2 separate regions of the Homo sapiens genome follow, and region 1 is linked to region 2. The links come from fine-mapping of genetic effects on gene expression. A gene starts in region 2. The other region holds a variant in brackets. All regions are shown on one strand. Distances are from middle to middle.

What was found. PIP is the estimated chance that this variant, and not a neighbour inherited with it, causes the effect.
Region 1: its variant is fine-mapped to the expression of WAPL in whole blood (TOPMed, PIP above 0.99).

Annotation. Positions count from the first base shown.
Region 1 is chr10:86,412,627-86,415,530 of GRCh38, forward strand. No RefSeq gene overlaps it. Among named protein-coding and RNA genes, the nearest start is that of GRID1, 47 kb to the left of the region's middle. RefSeq lists enhancers at 100-449, 1,450-1,499. The variant A/G (reference allele first, on the strand shown) is at 1,621.
Region 2 is chr10:86,520,600-86,523,503 of GRCh38, forward strand. WAPL (WAPL cohesin release factor) reads right to left here and starts at 1,193. Exons shown (of 19, transcript NM_015045.5): 1 at 766-1,193. It overlaps WAPL-DT (WAPL divergent transcript), which reads left to right and starts at 1,348. Exons shown (of 2, transcript NR_186498.1): 1 at 1,348-1,810; 2 at 1,910-2,904. RefSeq lists silencers at 687-1,106, 1,247-1,806.

The DNA of each region.
Region 1 (2,904 bases), 110 kb before region 2:
TGAAACATAAACTCTTCTGTAAGTATCTAAAAATTGAAGACAGTCCAGGCACGGTGGCTCACAAACTGTAATCCCAGCACTTTGGGAGGCAGAGGCAGGCAGATCACTTGAGGTCTGGAGTTCGAGACCAGCCTGACCAACATGGAGAAACCCCGTCTCTACTAGAAATACAAAAATTAGCCAGGCATAGTTGTGGGCACCTGTAATCCCAGCTACTCTACTCAAGAGGCTGAAACATGAGAATTGCTTGAACCCGGGAAGCAGAGGCTGCAGTGAACCAAGATCACACCACTGCACTCCAGCCTGGGCGACAAAGCCAGACTCCGTCTCTAAATAAATAAATAAATAATTGAAGACTGCCAGGCACATTCTAAGTGCTCAGTAAATGTTCACAATTAAAATTAAAAACATTCCTCAGAACATCATCCGGGGCTGGAGAGGTGTGATCAGGCAGTCGTTGGAACAGTAACAGGTGCTGAAGTAAGATGGTTTGCTTTACTCCATTTTAGTTTCTCTTGTGTATGGGTTCTCTGCGTCACTCTTACAACCCTAAAAATAAATGCTATATTTAATATTAGTCCACTTTAACTATTTCTGTCTGGACATGGTGGATTGTGCAGTAATTCATGCTTACCATTTCAGAAACTGTTCAGTGATCCAAAGGTTAAATGCAGGATGTGGTTTCTGCAGACTCTGGCATATATACAGCGCATGTTCAGTGCAGGCGAGCTATTTTTATGAAAGCTATGCTTAAATTTTCTCCTTGGATGACAGTAACATAAAACAGAAGAAGTTAGAGTAGCAATATGTGCTTATGTAATATTTGGTTTGTCTTGTTTTATTTTCCATGGGGTGCTATGTAAGTACAGTACTGACAACTATAGTACTGAAACCCTGCAAATTTACTTTTTATTATTTCAGTTTAGTTACCAAAAATTATGTGATGCATCACATGACCAATCATGCAAAAATTCGTGCTTAAGTGCCTCAGAAACTTCTCCATGGTCTAAAGGTTCAACTCAGGATGTGGTTTCCACCCCAAAGCCAGTCCCAGCTGCCACTCACTTTATTTTTTTCTTTTTTTTTTTTAAGAGTTGGGGTCTCCGCCGGGTGCAGTGGCTCACACCTGTAATCCCAGCATTTTGGGAGGCCGAGGTGGGCGGATCACCCAAGGTCAGGAGTTTGAGCCCAGCCTGGCCAACATGGTGAAACCCTGTTTCTACTAAAAATACAAAAATTAGCCGGGCATGGTGACGTGTGCCTGTAATCCCAGCTACTCGGGAGGCTGAGGCAGGAGAATCGCTTGATCCCAGGAGGCGGAGGTTGCAGTGAGCCAAGATGGCGCCATTGCACTCCAGCCTGGGCATCGCAGCGAGACCCCGTCTCAAAAAAAAAAAAAAAAGGAGCTGGGGTCTCGTTCTGTCACCCAGGCTGGAGTGCAGTGGCACAGTCATGGCTCACTGCAACCTCAACCTCCTGGGCTCGAGCAGTCCTCCTTCCTCAGCCTCCAAAGAAGTTGGGACTACAGGATCATGCCACCATGCCTGATTAAATCTTTTTTAAATTATTTTTTGAAGAGACAGGGTCTTGCTATCCTACCCAGGTTTGTCTCAAACTCTT[A/G]GCCTCAAGTGCTCCTCCTGCCTCAGCCACCCTAGCCTCTGGGATTTTAGACACAAGCCACTGTGCCTGGCCCCTCACTTTCCTTTTATGGCTTGAGTTTTATCTCTATCGAAGTAATAAGTGTGCTTATCTTTAAAAATCAAACGTTTTACAGTGAAAATGCTTACAATTAAAAATAATGGTCCCCTAGCTCTGCAGTTCCCCATTGAGCTCTGTTCCTGGGAAGCACCCACTTCCAGCCCTGGCACCTGCTTTTTTTCTGCCAGTTGATTTAACTCCATATTTTTATTTTATTATTATCATTATTTTTATTTTATTTTATTTTATTTTTGAGTCGGAGTCTCGCTCTGTTGCCCAGGCTGGAGTGCATTGGTGTGATCTCAGCTTACTGCAACCTCTGCCTCTCTTCAAGCAATTCTCCTGCCTCAGCCACCTGAGTAGCTGGGATTACAGGCGCCCGCCACCACAGCTGGCTAATTTTTGTATTTTTAGTAGAGACGGGGTTTCACCATGTTGGTCAGGCTGCTCTCGAACTCCTGATCTTGTGATCCACCTGCCTTGGCCTCCCAAAGTGCTAGGATTACAGTCATGAGCCACCGCGCCCGGCCTTAACTCCATTTTTTTTTTTTCAAGTTGGAGTCTCGCTCTGTTGCCCAGGCTGGAGTGCAGTGGCACAATCTCGGCTCACTGCAAGCTCCACCTCCCGGGTTCACGCCATTCTCCTGCCTCAGCCTCCAGAGTAGCTGGGACTACAGGTGCCCGCCACCACGCCCGGCTAATTTTTTGTATTTTTAGTAGAGACGGGGTTTCACCGTGTTAGCCAGGATGGTCTCGATCTCCTGACCTCGTGATCCTCCTGCCTCGGCCTCCTAAAGTGCTGGAATTACAGGTGTGAGCCACCAGCCCGGCCAACTCCATATTTTTAAACAATATGCTTATACTGCTCTTTCTTGACTTTTCCATTGACTGTCTGCCCTAGAAGACTGGAATTTTCCTCTCCTGTGCTGCACACATATCTCCCCAATAAAGCTCTATCACAAGTTTCGGTGAGATCAATACTCAGTATTCAACATTCATGATTACAGCTGTGTAAATATTACCCAGTGAGCCATTTATACTATACTATGATTGCATTTATTTTCTCATGAAACTTTATTTCCTCTAGGTTAATAATTTGCTTATTTTTCTAAGTATTTATCTTCCCTTCATCACAAGGTGCCAATTGACTCAAGAATTGATTCCTAGAACACTCAAACCCGTGAGGTCCATTCTCTTAATATATTT
Region 2 (2,904 bases):
AGTTAAATTTTAAGTGTTTCAAGTACACAATCTTGCTCAACCTTTAAACTCCAAAGACTGTCCTAACTAAAAAGGAAAGAATGATTGACGACTAAGTCTTTTCGGTCGTTCGGCTTTTGCCCTAGCCCAAAATCAGGTCGAATTTTGAGAGAAGTGCGCTGTGATTTAAAAAAAAAAAAAAAAAAAAAAAAGCAAAAAGCCTTTATACTTCACTCCCACCCTAATCTAGCGTCTTCCCGATCCCCAAAGGCTTTAAGGGCTTCCATTAAAGATGGAAAGCGGACGGGACGAACCTGACTAACCAGAAATCCTCACCTGGGGACAGCCGGGGCGCCACGGGCAGTGGGCGCGATGGACCCCTCGGACTAGACACTCAATGCAACTTTTCTCCTCCCAACCCGCGCCGCCCAGGAAAGGGAGGTCACTTTCGACGCCCCGGAAGCCTCTGCCACCGAATCCTTAAGGCAGTGCAAGGCCCCAGTGGCGGCCAGAGGCGGATGAAACCACGGGAAAGGACTCGGGGCTGAAATCAACACACTTGACTGGGTTTGGGGAGCTAAGTCAATCAGCAGTCGCCCGAAAAAGAACTCCGAAAAAGGAAAATAAAAGGGGAAAAAAAGAGTTCCTCAGGTCATTCCCCTGCCCAACTTCCTCAGCGGCCCGGTGGGCGAGGCAGTGAGACTTCCACCGCCCGCTCCCAGCCTCTGCCTCCCCCACCCTCCCGGCTCCCTCCCGGCCTAGGCGGCCGCCCGACACCTCACTTACCCTCGGAGCCTGGCGGGTGCTTTGGCCACGGGCCGCCTCCGCCTCTCCCGCTCCCTACGGCCCGCGGGCGGGCGCGGAACCCTCGCGCGGGAGAGCAGGGCCGGCAGGTGAGAGCCGAGAGAGGCGAGGGACTCTGCTTTCGGTAAATAGGAAGCCCGGTTGGGGGGGCAGGAGCGGCGGCCCCGCAACTTCCCTCCCCGCCTCGAGCGCCGCCGGCCGGGCCCAGGCCTAGCTCTCGCTGGCCGCCACTGCTGGAGCTGGTAACAGAGCCTGCTGTGTGCCCCCGCTGGGCCGCCGCCGCCTCCTGCGCCGCCGCTTCCGCCGGTGAATGGTCAGTGCTGGAGTTTGAACAGGGCCCTGAACCATCTCAACGCCATTTGCGCTCCCGGCCCCCACCTCCTTCCTCCAACAGCCGCTCGCTCCGTCACTCCGCTTCCCACAGTCCCCGCGCGGCCGCCCGACCCCGCAGCCAATCGCGCAGCCGCTTACTCAAACCGCCGCGCAGGCGCTGCGCCCCGCATGCTCCGGCGCCCGCCATTGGCCCGGCCGCGGAGCCCGACGGGAGTTGTAGTCCAGGTCCGCGAGGTCGCGGGCCGAGGACCAGGCGCGGGAGCGGGAGCGGGCGACTGGCCGGGCCCTCCCGGTCTCGGCAGCCACTTCTAGCTCCCGGCCCAGCCGGGAGACGCAGGTGCCACGGAGATGGGCAGCCGGGCGGGTGGCGCAGTGCAGGCAGCTGTATCAATCGCTTCCCCTCCAGGGACCCGCCGGTGCCTGGGGACCGCGGGCTGTGCAGCTGTGCCGGGCCTGCGGAGGCCGCCGCCCGGGAGCTGGGAGGCAGGGGGCGCGTGGTCAAGAGCCGCCCTCGACCTGGCCTGGTCGGTCCTGGCCCGGCGTAGGTGACGATGGCGGGGACCGCGAGGCGCCGGACACCCGAGGCCACGAGCAGCGTCGCCCCTCGCTTTTTCGCGCCCCTCCAGCCCTGCAGTCCTTCCTCTAAGTCCGTCTGCCCCTCACCGATTGAAAGTGGCCCCGAGAATATTGGATGGTATTGAGCAATTATCATTAACTTTGTTGGGTGTGGTAACGGTAATGTGGTTATGGTTTTTTGTTTTTTTTTTTTTAAGACCTACTGATGTGTTGACAGAGTGATCTGGTGTCAGGACTGTAAAATACGCCTATGAAAACTGGGGGAGAGGAATAAAACAAGCTGGCAGAACGTTTTTCATCGTTGAAGCTGCGTGATGCGAGCATATGTGCTCATCATACAGTCTCTTTACTTGTGTATCTGAAATTTTCCATAATAAAAAGTTTAAAGAAGTGAACCAGCGATTGCCTCTAGGGAGGACAGTGAGGTGGCGGATGACGGGAGGAAGGAGTCTTAATTTTTCGCTGTACGCCTTTTTGTGCTATCTTAGGTTTTTCCCATTCAATGTGTTACCTAATTCAGAAAATTGGTAAGTTTTTTTTAAGGCTACCATGGGAAAACAGCGTTCTAAAGAGTAGCGCAACCAGTTCCCCCTAAGAGAGGTGCATGATTCGTCGGACTCCGACAGCCTTGGTGTTTGTTAGGCGGTTAATGGAGACCCACCTGGGAAATTAGAAAACTACTAATTGCTTTCAGTGAGAAGCCCGCCCTTCTCCCACAAATGGATAATTTGCTTTTAATGCACCCAGAAGTTATCCAGCTCCCTCCGGTATAATCGGGGAAACTCCAAATAAAGGAAAAATAGTTCAGAGACCCTGCAGCTCTTCCCAAGAGGAATTTAAGGTGGATTTTAGTGTGGTTGGATTGTTTTGCCTACCTGACTGCAGAATTTATATTCTGACATTTACAATTTCCTAAATACTGAATCAGTACTTTTTCTTGTTTCAAAATAAATCAACTTCTTCTGTAGTTTATATGAAAAACAAGTCCATGTCTTCCACTGTGGGTGGGATGCACATGACTGTTTTATTTGGGTCAGTTTTGTCTCTTTTTTTAATTGGCAGTTTAGGAACTTGTTTTTATCATTTTGTTTAAAGATCTTCTGGCAGAGGTGCAGGCTGCACTTACTATAATTATTTAGATGACAAGGTGGTGGGTGGTAATTAAAGGGTAATTATCATCAGAGGCAAAAGGTAAGATCAAAAAACCAGAAG